4 linked regions of the Homo sapiens genome follow. The protein of the gene in region 1 interacts with the protein of each later gene in a pairwise test. Each region holds a gene or a part of one and is shown on either strand. Other genes may lie near its edges.

Region 1 (3,500 bases):
TTCACATAACCTCCTTGTGCCTCAGCTTCCCCATTTGTAAAATAGGTTTCATCAAGTACCTATTTATAAATATCAGTGAGTTGTTAACATGAGAGGAAGTTGTGTGTGCCAAATACAGAGTACTCGTTTGATAAAAGTGAACTCTTATTGTTGTGTTCAAGTTATTTTGAGCTGGAAGAGGATGAGATAATGACTTTAGATTCTTAGACCATCCTGTGATCAATAAATAGTTTCTTTTTCTTTTTCTTTTTTTTTTTTTTTGAGACAGGGTCTCACCATGTTGCCCAGGTTGGAGTGCAGTGGTGCAGTCATGGCTCGCTATAGCCTGGACCTCCTGGGCTCAAGTGATCCTCCCACTTCAGTCTCTGGAATAGCTGAGACTACAGGCATACAGCACCACACCTGGCTAATTTTTAAATTTTTGTGTAAATCGGGTCTCACTGTTTTTCCAGGCTGATCTTTAACTCCTGAGCTCAAACGATCTTCCCACCTCCCTTGGCCTCCCAAAGTGTTAGAATTATCAGCATGAGTCACAGAGCCTGGTCCAAATAACTTATTCTTGAACCCCAAAAACACTTAATAAAATGTATGAACAGGGTGTGGTGGCTTGCGCCTGTAATCCTAGCTACTGAGGAGGCTGAGGCAGGAGGATCACCTGAGGCCAGGAGTTCCAAACCAGCCTGAGTGACATAGTGAGACATTGTCTCTATGAAAATAAAATTAGCTGAGTGTGATGGCTTGTACCTGTAGTCCCAGCTACTTGGGAGGCTGAGGTGGGAGGATTGCTTAAGCCCAGGAGGTTGAGGCTGCAGTGAGCTATGATTGTACCCCTGCACTCCAGCCTGGGCAACACAACAAGACCTTGTCCCCCCTGCCAAAAAAAAATTACACGTAAGTGCTAAAGTATGATTTAATACTACTTTTCTGGAAGGAGGGTCTTTCTATGAGTATTACTAAGTTCAGTTAACTCTAGGCAGTAATTTCCCCCTAATTCATTTGTTATATAAATGACATTCTAACGTAAAAAGGAACAGAAGGAAGTTGCTTTAACAAAAATATGAGCTTAACAACTGAAGTGCTTGATGATTTTCATCACCCTGGGTTCTCTCTTTTTTTTTTTTTTTTTTTTTTTGAGGTAGAGTCTTGTTCTGTTGCCCAGGCTGGAGTGCAGTGGCATAATCTCGGCTCACTGCAACCTCTGCCTCCCAAGTTCAAGCAATTCTCCTGCCTCAGCCTCCCAAGTAGCTGGGACTACAGGCACGTGCCATCATGCCCGGCTAATTTTTGTCTTTAGAAACAGGGTTTCACCATGTTGGCCAGGCTGGTCTTGAACTCCTGACCTCTGGTGATCCACGCACCTCGGCCTCCCAAAGCCAAGGGATTTGCTGGGATTACAGGTGTGAGCCACCGTGCCCGGCCTGGATTCTCTTCTGATTCTTGAGAATGTTCGAACATGTTTTCACATAGCTTTTTCTTCCTAGCATTATTTTATATTTTCATTTCTTGTATCAACACAGTTCACTAGCTTGTTGTCTTACAGAGTTGGCCTGCGTTTCCTGGCTTGGTAAACTCTACCCTTATCATTGGCTGTCAGAGTTTATCAAAGGGTTTGTGTAAAGAGAGTGGATTATTTATCAAGAGCTGCTAGGCACAGTGTGAGGCTGGTTAAAATTTATTTATTTGTTTTTGGGACTGAGCGTCGCTCTGTTGTCCAGGCTGGAGAGCAGTGGCGCAATCATGATTCACTGCATCCTCAATCTCTCAGACTCAACTGATCCTCCCACCTCAGCCTCCTGAGTAGCTGGGACTACAGGCGTGTACTCCCACGCTGGGCTAATTTTTATATTTTTTTGTAGAGATGAGGTCTTGTCATGTTGCCTAGGCTGATCTCAAACTCCTAGGCTCAAGCAGTCCTCCCACCTCGGCCTCCCAAAGTGTTGGGATTACAGGCATGAGCTACCGCGCCCGGTCCTCCTTTCTTTTTGAGGCTGAATCATATTCTGGTGGATGGATAAACTTCGCTGTGTTAGTTTATTGGTCCGTCGATGGACACTGGTGTTCCTTCCCCTTTTGGCTCTCATAGATAGCCAGACGATGAACGCATGCTATGAACACAAATGTACAAATATAATATTTGCTGGCATCCCTGCGTTCCTCTCTTTGTCCTGTAGTGAATGCTATTGGCCTTGTTTCCTGAGCAACCTGTGTTTGTCCCTCTCCCTTTCATCAGTTACCGTGCAGACGGTCTACGTGCAGCACCCCATCACCTTTTTGGACCGCCCTATCCAAATGTGTTGTCCTTCCTGCAACAAGATGATCGTGAGTCAGCTGTCCTATAACGCCGGTGCTCTGACCTGGCTGTCCTGCGGGAGCCTGTGCCTGCTGGGGTGAGTCTGCCTCCCACTTGGCCCCAAGCCATCCTGCCCTTCTCTCTGGGTGCTGGCGGGGGTGGGTTCTCAACTGCACCATGCTTGACATTCAGGGCCAGACATTTGTGTTGTTTTTTTTTGAGATGGAATCTGGTTCTGTCGCCCAGGCTGGAGTACAGTGGGGCGATCTCGGCTCACTGTAACCCCCACTGCTCAGGTTCAAACGATTCTCCTGCCTTAGCGTCCCGTGTAGCTGGGATTATAGGGGTGCACAACCACGCCCAGCTTATTTTTAGTAGAGCTGGCATTTCACCATCTTGGCCAGGCTGGTCTCAAACTCCTGACCTCAGGTGATCTGCCCACCTTGGCCTCCCAAACTGCTGGGGTTACAGGTGTGAGCCACTGTGCCTGGCCTAAGGCATTTCTTTCTTTTTTTGTGATGGATTCTCACTCTGTTGCCCAGGCTGGAGTGCAGTAGCACGATCCCGGCTCACTGCAACCTCCGCCTCCCAGGTTCAAGCTATTCTCCTGCCTCAGCCTCCTGAGTAGCTGGGATTACAGGTGTGCACCGTCAGGCCCGGCTAATATTTTGTACTTTTAGTAGAGATAGGGTCTCACCATGTTGGCCAGGCTGGTCTCGAACTCCTGACCTCAGGTGGTCCACCCGCCTCAGCCTCCCAAAGTGCTGGGATTACAGGTGTGGGCCATCATGCCTGGCCCAAGACATTTCTTTATTGTAGGGGGTGTCCTGTGCATTGTAGGATATTGAATAGCATCCCTGGCCCCCACCCGCTTAATGCTAGGAGCACCACGCTCCCCAGTGTTCTGAACAAAAATGCCCCCTGGGAGGCCAAGTCATCCCTGCTGCTCTTAAGCGTATCCGTCCCCAGAAATTGGTCTTCCGTCTTTTCTTCTTGCTTATCTGCTGAAACCACGCCCTGCATGTAGGGACAAGCTTCACAGCTGCTTCCAGCTGTGTACAGGGCAATATCCTCAGGGATTCCTTTTTCTTCTAGAATTTCATGACCTAAATAATAATGTTTTGCTCGAGCCCGAGGGAAGCTTTAAAGAATCTGTACATTAAAATTCTTCATAGGAATTGCTTCAAAACTTCTTATCCTTTTATGACCC
Region 2 (3,500 bases), on another chromosome or scaffold:
GGCAGGGAAGGAACAGTTTTTAGAAAAGAGAGAGAGAGCCTAAGAGTCCTAGGGCCTTCAGAGAAACATCTCTTTAAATGCTTCCCCTTCCTCCGGGTAGTATTTTAAATAGGTCACCTTCTGGAAGTAGTGGTAGTCAGTTGGGATATTGCTAGCTTCCCGTACCCCAGCCATGGGAGTAGTACTTTGGATTAAATCTTGTTATTCAAGGCCAGACTAAAAGCCTCATTGGTGCGGTGGGGGGAAGTAGGAACCACATTCCACTCAAATCAGGAAGCTAGAAGTAGGATTGCATTATGGCTATGAGCACCGCGTTAAAATAAGAGTCTTGGGATTGAACTCCCTTTCATTGGTTCATAGCTGAGCCTTTCCAGGCCTCAGTTTCCTCTTCTATAAAATGGGGACAGTGGGCCAGGTATGGTGGCTCACATCTGTAATCCCAGCAGTTTGGAAGGTCAAGGTGGACAGATCACGAGGTCAGGAGTTCAAGACCAGCCTGGCCAATATGGTGAAACCCCATCTCTACTAAAAATACAAAAATTAGCCGGGCATGGTGGCATGCTCCTGTAATCCCAGTCACTCAGGAGGCTGAGGCAGGAGAATCGCTTGAACCGAGGAGACGGAGGTTGCAGTGAGCCAAGACTGCACCATTGCACTCCAGCCTGGATGACAGAGCGAGACTCCGTCTCAAAAAAAATAAAAATTAAAAAATGGGGACAATGACAGTGTCTCCCTATAGGGCCACGTGAGGGCCAAGAAGGAATTGAACATGGTGCTGCACACCAGGTGAGTTGGCAGTGCTGGCTTTGCTGCTGCCTTTTGTCCCATCTCAGGACAGGCCCCTTCCTTCTGCCTTGCTCCACTTGGATGATGACGGTGTTACCCTTGGTAATCTCCCCATCCCTTTGAGCTGTGGCCTCTGATTCCAGCCCTCTGAGATCCCGAGCCACCATATCCATGGTCACTGGCATTCTAAGCAGTTTCTCTGGTGATTCCTAAGGGAAGCTGTCAACTTTAGATGGTAAAAGCAATTCCCAACAGTGAGGTATGAAAATGCAGGTCACCCGCCAGGAAGGATAATAATACTAGCTCAAATGACTCTGGCCTCCACCCAGTGCCAGGCACCTTGCTCGGCTCTTTCCTGTGTTATTTTATTAACCCCAACCCTGGAGGACAAGATGCTATTACAGTTCTCATTTTGCAGTTGAGGAACCTGAGGCTCTAAAAAGGGAAGTGCCTTACTAAGGGTCATAGAGCTTGGGAATCGCAGAGCCTGGTTCTGGTTGATCCCAGACCCTGAGCTTCTAACTGCCATACTAACCTCCTCTCCTCCTGGCTTTGCCTCTGGAACCTTAGGGACCTGAGTAGAAAAACAGTCAAAACGGGTGCATGGATGTTGGGGAGAAGGCATTCAAGGATAGACTGAAGCACCTCATTAGCCACACGGAACAACTGAGCTACGTGCAGGCCCTGAGCAAAATGCTTTTAGCCCCATCCCAACCCCGCCTCCCCCTAGATCTGTTTCCATTTCATCTGACACTGTGGAAGCCTGAATATGAAATGATTGGGGGCAGAAGGCCAATTAGCAAATTCATTAATAGGATTAAACATCTCTCCTCTGCTCTAATCATTTATGTGAACTAAAATTTTCTCTCTTTGTTATAGCCATCATTGCCTGTCAGTGAAGATAGAGTGTTTAAATATCTTCCAAGTATGTTAGAATTGCAAACGTTCAGAACCAGGGACCAGGATCAGAGTTTTCACACGGTCCAGGTGGGCAAGGAGATCAGTCGGTTTACAAGTGGTTATCACTGCTAAGAAAAAAACACAAGAACTTGCTAGTACATTTGCAAGTACCTTACTGCTCATCTCCTTTCTCTCCTTAGCCACATGTTGGCCCAAATCACCTGCGTATGTTATACGGTTGTTATGAGCATACACTCCTGGTTAGGCAGACCTAGAATTCAAATCCTGGCTCTGCAACTCATTAGCTGTGTGACATTGAGCAGGTTACCTCGCTTCTGTGAACTTTCATCTCTACATAATCTAGAAAATGAAAGTATTGTTGATAATTCCCTCCCAGGTTGTTATGAGGATTAAATGCAGTCATGCATGTAAGATGCAGCGGTCAGCACTCAGAATGCGCTAAAGGTAAATTGTTACTATCTGGGTCTACTCCACTTAAAGTGTGCTCCTCCAACCAACAGCCTCAGCATCAGTTGGGAGCTTGTTAGAAATACAGAGTCCCGGCCAGGCGCGGTGGCTCACGCCTGTAATCCCAGCACTTTGGGAGGCCGAGGCTGGCGGATCATGAGGTCAGGAGATAGAGACCATCCCGGCTAACACGGTGAAACCCCGTCTCTACTAAAAATACAAAAAAATTAGCCAGGCGTGGTGGCGGGCGCGTGTAGTCCCAGCTACTCGGGAGGTTGAGGCAGGAGAATGGCGTGAACCCAGGAGGTGGAGCTTGCAGTGAGCCGAGATCGCGCCACTGCACTCCAGCCTGGGCGACAGAGCGAGACTCCATCTTGGAAAAAAAAAAAAAACCTCAACTCAGTGAGACCTACCCAGTCAGAACCTGCATTTTAACAAGATCACCAGATGGTTTATATGCCCACTGGAGTCTGAGGAATACTGGCCTAAAGTACAGATTATGGAACTATGTGTATTGTATTACACAAAATTATATATCAAGCCAGAAGAGGCTTTTGCTAAGACTTCTGATTTAAGCCTCATTTTACAAATAAGAAAATAGAATCCAGAGAAGGTGAGTGGTTTGCCCACAATCACACAGCTCAAGTGTTAGGCCTGACATCCGAACCCCAGCCCTGGTCATCTCATATAAATTGTTAAGAAGTCAGATTTCCAGATTTGCATTTCTGCAATCAAGCTTGTCTGTTTTTCTTTCTCTCTCTTTCTTTTTAACAACAAAGAAGTGCAGGATGATGTACGCCCATTAAGTTTTAGTTTACTCATTTTAAATGTTATTCCAGCCAACAGAGATCCTGAATCTTGACTCCACCAGCCATCATCTTAGCTGTACCTCCAAGTTTTCTGCTACCTGAAGAAATGATAAGGAGGCATTCTAGGTCTTTATCTAAGTTGCTTCTAAGAACATGGGCCAGAACAGGGTGCAGGACAGAGCCATGTGGACTGCAACTAGAGACTTGCCTGCATAATGGATTTCACTGATAATGTTCAGAATCCCAGAGCAGGATGGCAGCCTGGTTTACATACAGAGCCTTTGTGTGGGATTTGAAGCCAGAAAATGTGACTAAAGTAGGAGTCTAAACAGACACAGGTAGGGCCTGGGGAATGAAAGTCAAATGCCTTTTCCAGGGGGTCTAGTAGGACCTCTCTGTTGGTGGGGATCCCCCAAAAAAGTAATCTTTTTATTTTTGTAGGAGTCCTGTAATGGTTTCATTATTATTCTCACTTTGCAGAGTAGGAAACGTAGATGCAGGGAGGTTCTTGATTGGCTAGTGATTAGTAAGCAAGGA
Region 3 (3,500 bases), on another chromosome or scaffold:
GCAGTCACAATCCTCTACTGGTGACAATATGACTTTATAATATTAGGGAAAAGTCCTTCCACACCTCATAAAATGCAATCAATTCATAATTTCGGTGCTGAGAGAATTTACTTTCACACATTCTAGGTTTTTTGTTGAGAATTCAATTATTAAAAAGAAAATTCTCAATTTGGGTAAGAATCTGGGCCTTAATTAAAAATCTCAATAAAAGAAAGTACCCAGGCAAGGCTCAGAACCTCTATGAAGTACAATATGATGGAAATTTAAAAACACTTGTTAAAAAAAAACCACACACACACATTTTCATTTGTTTATATCCATGAAAGTGTCAACTGAAAAAAAAAAAACCTACTTAAATAATTATCCTTGAAAATCCAAGTAAAAACAATGTGTAAGTAAGACTAATCTCTACAGCTCATTTGTTGGTTGGTTGATTTTGAGAAAGTAAACCAATGCTTTATTATGTAATAACAACAAACCCAAATAAAAGCATCTTCAAATTTGCCCAAGAAGCTTCAGAGCAAACTCTTTCTACTTGATAGTTCCCCTGGGAGTAATAAAGAACTCTCTTTGCACTGTCAAATTTACAAAAGCTAAGCAACCACTTTTCATCTGGCCTGAAACATCCACAAGCCTTTTTACTGAATGTGGTTCTTTCTACATAAACACAGAGAGGCAACAAGCAGAGGCACACAGACAGACACAGGACTACCAAGTAAATAGCCTGGACTGAGTCCTATCAAGATTTGTCACTTTTCCTCTACTAGAGTCTGTTATGTCTGAACTACAACAACGAAAAGTCTTCTCTCTCTGGTAAGAATGACTGCATTAAGCAGGTCAAACTCTATTATCAAAAATATCAGGCCGGGCGCGGTGGCTTATGCCTGTAATCCCAGCACTTTGGGAGGCCGAGGCAGGCAGATCACGAGGTCAGGAGATCGAGACCATCCTGGCTAACACGGTGAAACCCCGTCTCTACTAAAAATACAAAACATTAGCCAGGTGTGGTGGCGGGCACCTGTAGTCCCAGCTACACGGGAGGCTGAGGCTGAGGGAAGAGAATGGTGTGAACCCAGGAGGCGGAGGTTACAGTGAGCCGAGATTGCACCACTGCACTCCAGCCTGGGCAACAGAGCGAGACTCTGTCTCAAATTAAAAAAAAAAAAAATCAGTTACAAGTCACCCAGAAAGCTACAGAAATTAGTGCCATGCTAACAAATGCATAACTAAAATGTAACCGTAGGAATTTGATCCACAAAACCCAGCATGCTGATGAAACACCAGGAAAATGCAGTAGAAAGACATGATCACTGTGTTTGAAATCCCCTTAAAGATTTGAGACACAATCCCAGAGTAATAAGGCAAAAGAGCAACTTGATCAGGTGGTAGAAAATTACCTTTGGAGGACAGGAGGAAATAAGATTAGAATAGTCTGGAACATAGTTAAGTCCAGACTATGAATCTCTCTTCAACAAATCTACCTAAACTTTTATGGAGTCAATTTACATGTTTACTCAATATAATTTCTTAGGCTGATAAAATGCTACAAAATTTCATTCTGTACAATGACAAAAATGAAATGTACAATTTAACTTTCTAACAGTAGAGATGTTTTTCTTAGTAGGAATAACAAACATGATCCATTCAAGGGAAAAAAGGATATTTTATTCATCTTTGAATACTTGACAAGGGTAAATAATAGTCAATAAGAATTTGTTGAAGAACAGGAAACATTTCCCAGAACAGGAGCTGCATCTGCAGCTGTGGCCATAGAACAAGAAAAAATGCCAGTTGGCCTATTCAAAAACTGAAACTGGTAAGAAAAATGGTTAATGGTTGAGTTCTCACTCAAAAAATTAACTAATATCAGAATGGTCACTTTGATTTTTTTTTCTTTTGAGAGCAGATCTCACTGTGTCACCCAGACTGGAGTACAGTGGTGCAACCGTGGCTCACTGCAGCCTCCTTGACCTCCCAGGCTCAAGTGATCTTCCCACCTCAGCTTCTTGAGGAGCTGGGACTACAGGCGCACACCACCAAGCCCAGCTAATCATTAAAAAATTTTTTTGTAGAGATGGGGTCTCACTGTATTACCCAAGTTGGTCTCAAATTCCTGGGCTCAGATGATTCTCCCACTTCAGCCTCCTGAAATGCTGGGATTATAGGTGTGAGCCCCCACACTGGCCTCAATCTGACTTCTAATTCTTCTAGATCTTTTCCTTTAACAAAATTCTTTTTATGAACCAAAAATAAGATTAAATTGTCATAGTTTCTGCCTTTTTTCATTATATAATATCTGCTCATATCAAGGGATAATTATCAAGGACAATGATTTCCATTGTAGAATGTGTGGACATACACTCAGCCCTCCATGTCCATGGGTTCTGCATCCGTGCACTCAACCAACTTCAAATTGAAAATACAAAAAATTAAAAAAAATTGTGTCTGAACTAAACATACAGCCACATCTATCATAATACTTTTTAATCTTTTCCAGTTTGATTATTCACTGAACATTAACATGCTGCATTGAAACAAAGTAGATGTGTAACGAGATATTTAATGCTTTCTCTAAAATATGGCAAAACTACTGTTAATTGCCACACAGATTTTTCATTTCTTTAGAAAACACAACAAATTTATTTTTAAAATGTCCCCTGGAACAAAGACGACAATCTCTGGTGACTAGGAAAAGTCCTGCTGCTACTGCACTTCTCTGGCAGAGGCAGAAAAGAAGTAGTTTATATTCTCCTTCTTATTTTGGTCCTATCTAATCTTTTCTTCTTGTGCTGCTTATATATTAATTCAATAAATACCACTAGAAAGGGATGATGATGGAATACTAAGCCCTATCCCTTGTTTTCCTTTCACTACAGGTTCTCCCTATGACTTCAGATAGAGAGCTGAGAAATAAGGGAGCAGAACCAAGTTAAAAGCTCAAAACCCTGAAAGTCTACCCCCTTCAGTGTTGCTCCTATTTTATTTTTATTTATTTATTTATTTTTTGAGACCGTGTCTTGCTCTTTTGCCCAGGCTGGAGTGCAGTGGCGAGATCTCGGCTCACTGCAAGCTCCGCCTCCTGGGTTAACGCCATTCTCCTGCCTCAGCCTCCCGAGTAGCTGGGACTACAGGCCACCACCACCACGCCCGGCTAATTTTTTGTATTTTTAGTAGAGACGGGGTTTCACCATGTTAGCCAGGATGGTCTCGATCTCCTGACCTCATGATCCACCCGCCTCGGCCTCCCAAAGTGCTGGGATTACAGGCTTGAGCCACTGCGCCTGGCCGCTCCTATTTTTAAAGGACAATAAGGGACAGGCACAGTGGCTCATGCCTATAATCCCAGCACTTTGGGAAGCTGAGGCAGGAAGATCACTTGAGGCCAAGAGTTTGAGACCAGCCTGGGCAGCACAGCAAGACCCTGTCTTTAAAAAAAAAAAAAGCTGGGCATAAGGCTGGGTGCAGTGGCTCACACCTGTAATCCCAACACTTTGGGAGGC
Region 4 (3,969 bases), on another chromosome or scaffold:
GGAAAGTTAGCTGCTCAGGACCACTGTCCCACTTTACCAGCACCTTCCTGCCACTCTCCACTTCTCTCTCCTAGATCCCAGAAATCTGGGAGCGGCTGGAGCGAGAAAACAGAGGCAAGTGGCAGGCAATTGCCAAGCACCAGCTCCAGCATGTGTTCAGCCCCTCAGAGCAGGACCTGCGGCTGCAGGCGCGAAGGTAAGGCCTGTGGAAATGGCAGGGAGGGTGGAGGGGATGCAGGAGGCATGGATGTGGGTGGGGTGCCCCCACCTTCCAGGGCCAGTCAGACCTTCCTGACTTTCCCCCAGGTGGGCTGAGACCTACAGGCTGGATGTGCTAGAGGCAGTGGCTCCAGAGCGGCCCCGCTGTGCTTACTGCAGTGCAGAGGCTTCTAAGCGCTGCTCACGATGCCAGAATGAGTGGTATTGCTGCAGGTGAGGGTATCCTAGAACCTTGGACCTCTAAGCCCTACTCCCACATCCCCCACATGCATTGCCATCCTCAATACCCACCTGCCTGCAGGGAGTGCCAAGTCAAGCACTGGGAAAAGCATGGAAAGACTTGTGTCCTGGCAGCCCAGGGTGACAGAGCCAAATGAGGGCTGCAGTTGCTGAGGGCCGACCACCCATGCCAAGGGAATCCACCCAGAATGCACCCCTGAACCTCAAGATCACGGTCCAGCCTCTGCCGGAGCCCCAGTCTCCGCAGTGGAGAGCAGAGCGGGCGGTAAAGCTGCTGACCGATCTCCCTCCTCCTCACCCCAAGTGAAGGCTCGAGACTTCCTGCCCCACCCAGTGGGTAGGCCAAGTGTGTTGCTTCAGCAAACCGGACCAGGAGGGCCAGGGCCGGATGTGGGGACCCTCTTCCTCTAGCACAGTAAAGCTGGCCTCCAGAAACACGGGTATCTCCGCGTGGTGCTTTGCGGTCGCCGTCGTTGTGGCCGTCCGGGGTGGGGTGTGAGGAGGGGACGAAGGAGGGAAGGAAGGGCAAGGCGGGGGGGGCTCTGCGAGAGCGCGCCCAGCCCCGCCTTCGGGCCCCACAGTCCCTGCACCCAGGTTTCCATTGCGCGGCTCTCCTCAGCTCCTTCCCGCCGCCCAGTCTGGATCCTGGGGGAGGCGCTGAAGTCGGGGCCCGCCCTGTGGCCCCGCCCGGCCCGCGCTTGCTAGCGCCCAAAGCCAGCGAAGCACGGGCCCAACCGGGCCATGTCGGGGGAGCCTGAGCTCATTGAGCTGCGGGAGCTGGCACCCGCTGGGCGCGCTGGGAAGGGCCGCACCCGGCTGGAGCGTGCCAACGCGCTGCGCATCGCGCGGGGCACCGCGTGCAACCCCACACGGCAGCTGGTCCCTGGCCGTGGCCACCGCTTCCAGCCCGCGGGGCCCGCCACGCACACGTGGTGCGACCTCTGTGGCGACTTCATCTGGGGCGTCGTGCGCAAAGGCCTGCAGTGCGCGCGTGAGTAGTGGCCCCGCGCGCCTACGAGAGCGGAAGGGGCAGCCAAGGGGCAGCGCAGTCGCCGCGGGTCAAGTCGCGGCAGAGGGGGTCGGCGGGGACAGCTCCCGAGGACTAGGTCCGTTACTTTCGCCCCATCGCTGAAGAGTGCGCGAAAATGGTTTATCCCTTGTCGCACTCCACTCGTATCTGGGCCACAGATGAGCAGAGGTGGCTGCTTATATGTAAAAATACGCTGATTTTAAGTTTCTTATCTTTAAAATGCCTTGGCCCTTCTTGAGAAAGGGTTTGTGCCTACTGTCCTCGGAGTCCATCTTCCCAGGCTTGCCTCTTCTCAAACACTCATGACCCCCTCCAGAACCTTTAGGGTGAAGGGAAATTACCACCTATGGGAGGGAGCCTGGAAAAATTTAGAACCTTTGGTGGGCCCCCTGCAAGCAGGAGTTTTGTTGAGTCTTTATTTAGCAAACACCCTTTTCTGACCCAGTGAATCAGATGCTAAAATATGCACGCAGCCACACACCCAGCAGTCCTTCTGCACCCCTGGGAATCGCCAGCAAGCAAAGGTTGCTCTCCCCTGGGTAGACACCAGCTGGAATCACCAGGGGTGCTTTTACAGTCCTCCCCGCTAGCCTGGATCCCACCGCAGACCTGTTGAATCAACTGCTGGGAGTGGACCCTAGGCATCAGTAAATTTTAAAAACTCCCCAAATTATTGTAACATGGAGTCTGGGTTGAGCATCACTGCTCTGGCCTATTTAGGAACTTGTGGATGGATAGTGTCCCAGGTCTGTGTGTGCATGGAGACCCTCTCATCCGGTACAAGAGGACATCACAAATTCAGCTGGGGGGAGCACAAAGTTGTGACAGAATGCAAAGAATGAACAAGGGGCCGAGCGCGGTGGCTCATGCCTGTAATCCCAGCACTTCGGAAGGCGGAGGCGGGTGGATCACCTGAGGTCAGGAGTTCAAGACCAGCCTGGCCAACATGGTGAAACCTCATGTCTACTAAAAAATAAAAAAAAATGAGCCAGGCGTAGTGGCGGGTGCCTGTAATCCCAGCTACTCGGGAGGCTGAGGTGGGAGAATTGCTTGAACACAGGAGGCGGAGGTTGCAGTGAGCCGAGATCGTGCCACTGCCCTCCAGCCTTGGCGACAGAGTGAGACTCTGTCTCAAAAAAAAAAAAAAAAAAAAAAAGAACAAGGCTGGGACATTGCAGCGTTCTCAAAGAGAAATAAAGTAGCCATGGAGATAAGAAGCAGGATGATTTGGGCATGTTTATCAGAGGTAGAGACAAGGGAGAAATCAAAGATAAGTTTGGGCTTTTGTCTCCAGTAACTGGGAGCCTAGTGGCCATTTTTGCTGCAAAGAGGAAGCTGGGCAAGTGTAGCAGTGAGGCTGAAGAAAAGGGAATTAAATTTTGGCCATGTTCACTTGAAACGTCTTTTAGACATCCTAGTGAAGGTACTGGCACGGAGGATCTAGTCTGAGGGTTTAGGTCAGTGTTTCAGCCGTGGATCTGGGGCAGATGAATGTAGACAGACCAGGCCAGTGATCAGGACTGAGCCCAGACTTCATCGTGAGATATGGAAGTTGAGTCAGAATCTGCAAAGGAGCTGAGCAGGAGCTGCAGGGGGTAGGAGGAAAACTGGGAGAGTGTAGCCCCTGGGAGTCAAAGGGAGCAAGCTTCAAATGATGCTGAGGGGGTGAGAATGGAGAATGGAACACTGGATTCCATTTGGTAGTACACAGATCGCTGAGGACCCTGTCCCGGGCAGTTTCCTGGAGGAAGAGGCAAGCCTGGCTGGAGTGGGTAGAGGGGAGAGTGAAGGCGAAGGATTAGAGTGTATAGAGACCAGTGTCTTGGTCTGAGGGGAGTAGAGACAGGTGACAACCACAGGGCAGACGTAGGTTAAAGGTGTTTAGTTTTTCCTTCAAGTAAATGGGCAGATGTATTCCATATACGTTCCCAGTGAAGGGCCGGGTGCGGTGGCTCAAGCCTGTAGTCCCAGCACTTTGGAAGGCCGAGGCGGGTGGATCACCTGAGATCAGGAGTTTGAGACCAGCCTGGCTAACATGGTGAAACCCCGTCTCTACTAAAAATACAAAAATTAGCTGGGCATGGTGGCGGGCGCCTGTAATCCTAGGTACTCAGGAGGCTGAGGCAGAAGAATCGCTTGAACCCAGGAGGCGGAGGTTGCGGTGAGCCGAAATCGCGCCATTGCACTCCAGCCTGGGTGACAAAAGCAAGACGCAGTTTTTTGTTGTTGTTTTTTTAATTGCCAATGAGGAAAGGGGAAGTTCTGTGCTAGGCGATAGAGATCCAACTGTTGAGCAGGCCTCTCTGCCTGTGGCCTTCCGGCCGGTTTCCAGACGCCCAGGTGGCCAACATTAGAGTCCGCGTAGCAGTGTGAGGTAACCCACTGAGATAGGTCGGGCCTGCGGAGCCTGGCGAGCAGCGGCCCTCTCCCTGGGGCTTCCCTTCAATCTCCGGGACATTTCCCCGACCTGGAGCTCCTCC

What was found. The genes of interacting proteins can lie anywhere in the genome.
Region 2: the proteins of LITAF (region 1) and KCNIP1 interact in binary tests that used the Homo sapiens proteins (3 or more experiments, as listed by UniProt).
Region 3: the proteins of LITAF (region 1) and STAM2 interact in a two-hybrid assay, tested with the Homo sapiens proteins (4 studies listed by BioGRID and IntAct).
Region 4: the proteins of LITAF (region 1) and RASSF1 interact in binary tests that used the Homo sapiens proteins (3 or more experiments, as listed by UniProt).

Annotation. Positions count from the first base shown.
Region 1 is NC_000016.10:11,552,420-11,555,919, reverse strand, and holds part of LITAF (lipopolysaccharide-induced tumor necrosis factor-alpha factor), read left to right. Parts: intron 1-2,230; coding exon 2,231-2,387; intron 2,388-3,500.
Region 2 is NC_000005.10:170,510,520-170,514,019, forward strand, and holds part of KCNIP1 (A-type potassium channel modulatory protein KCNIP1), read left to right. Parts: intron 1-3,500. UniProt on the Homo sapiens protein: Regulatory subunit of Kv4/D (Shal)-type voltage-gated rapidly inactivating A-type potassium channels. Regulates channel density, inactivation kinetics and rate of recovery from inactivation in a calcium-dependent and isoform-specific manner.
Region 3 is NC_000002.12:152,127,264-152,130,763, forward strand, and holds part of STAM2 (signal transducing adapter molecule 2), read right to left. Parts: intron 1-3,500.
Region 4 is NC_000003.12:50,338,037-50,342,005, reverse strand, and holds the start of RASSF1 (ras association domain-containing protein 1), read left to right. Parts: upstream 1-1,169; 5' UTR 1,170-1,200; coding exon 1,201-1,450; intron 1,451-2,799; exon of another isoform or gene 2,800-2,912; intron 2,913-3,705; exon of another isoform or gene 3,706-3,969. Other genes in the region: ZMYND10 (zinc finger MYND domain-containing protein 10), read left to right, coding at 75-196, 307-432, 521-596. UniProt on the Homo sapiens protein: Potential tumor suppressor. Required for death receptor-dependent apoptosis. Mediates activation of STK3/MST2 and STK4/MST1 during Fas-induced apoptosis by preventing their dephosphorylation.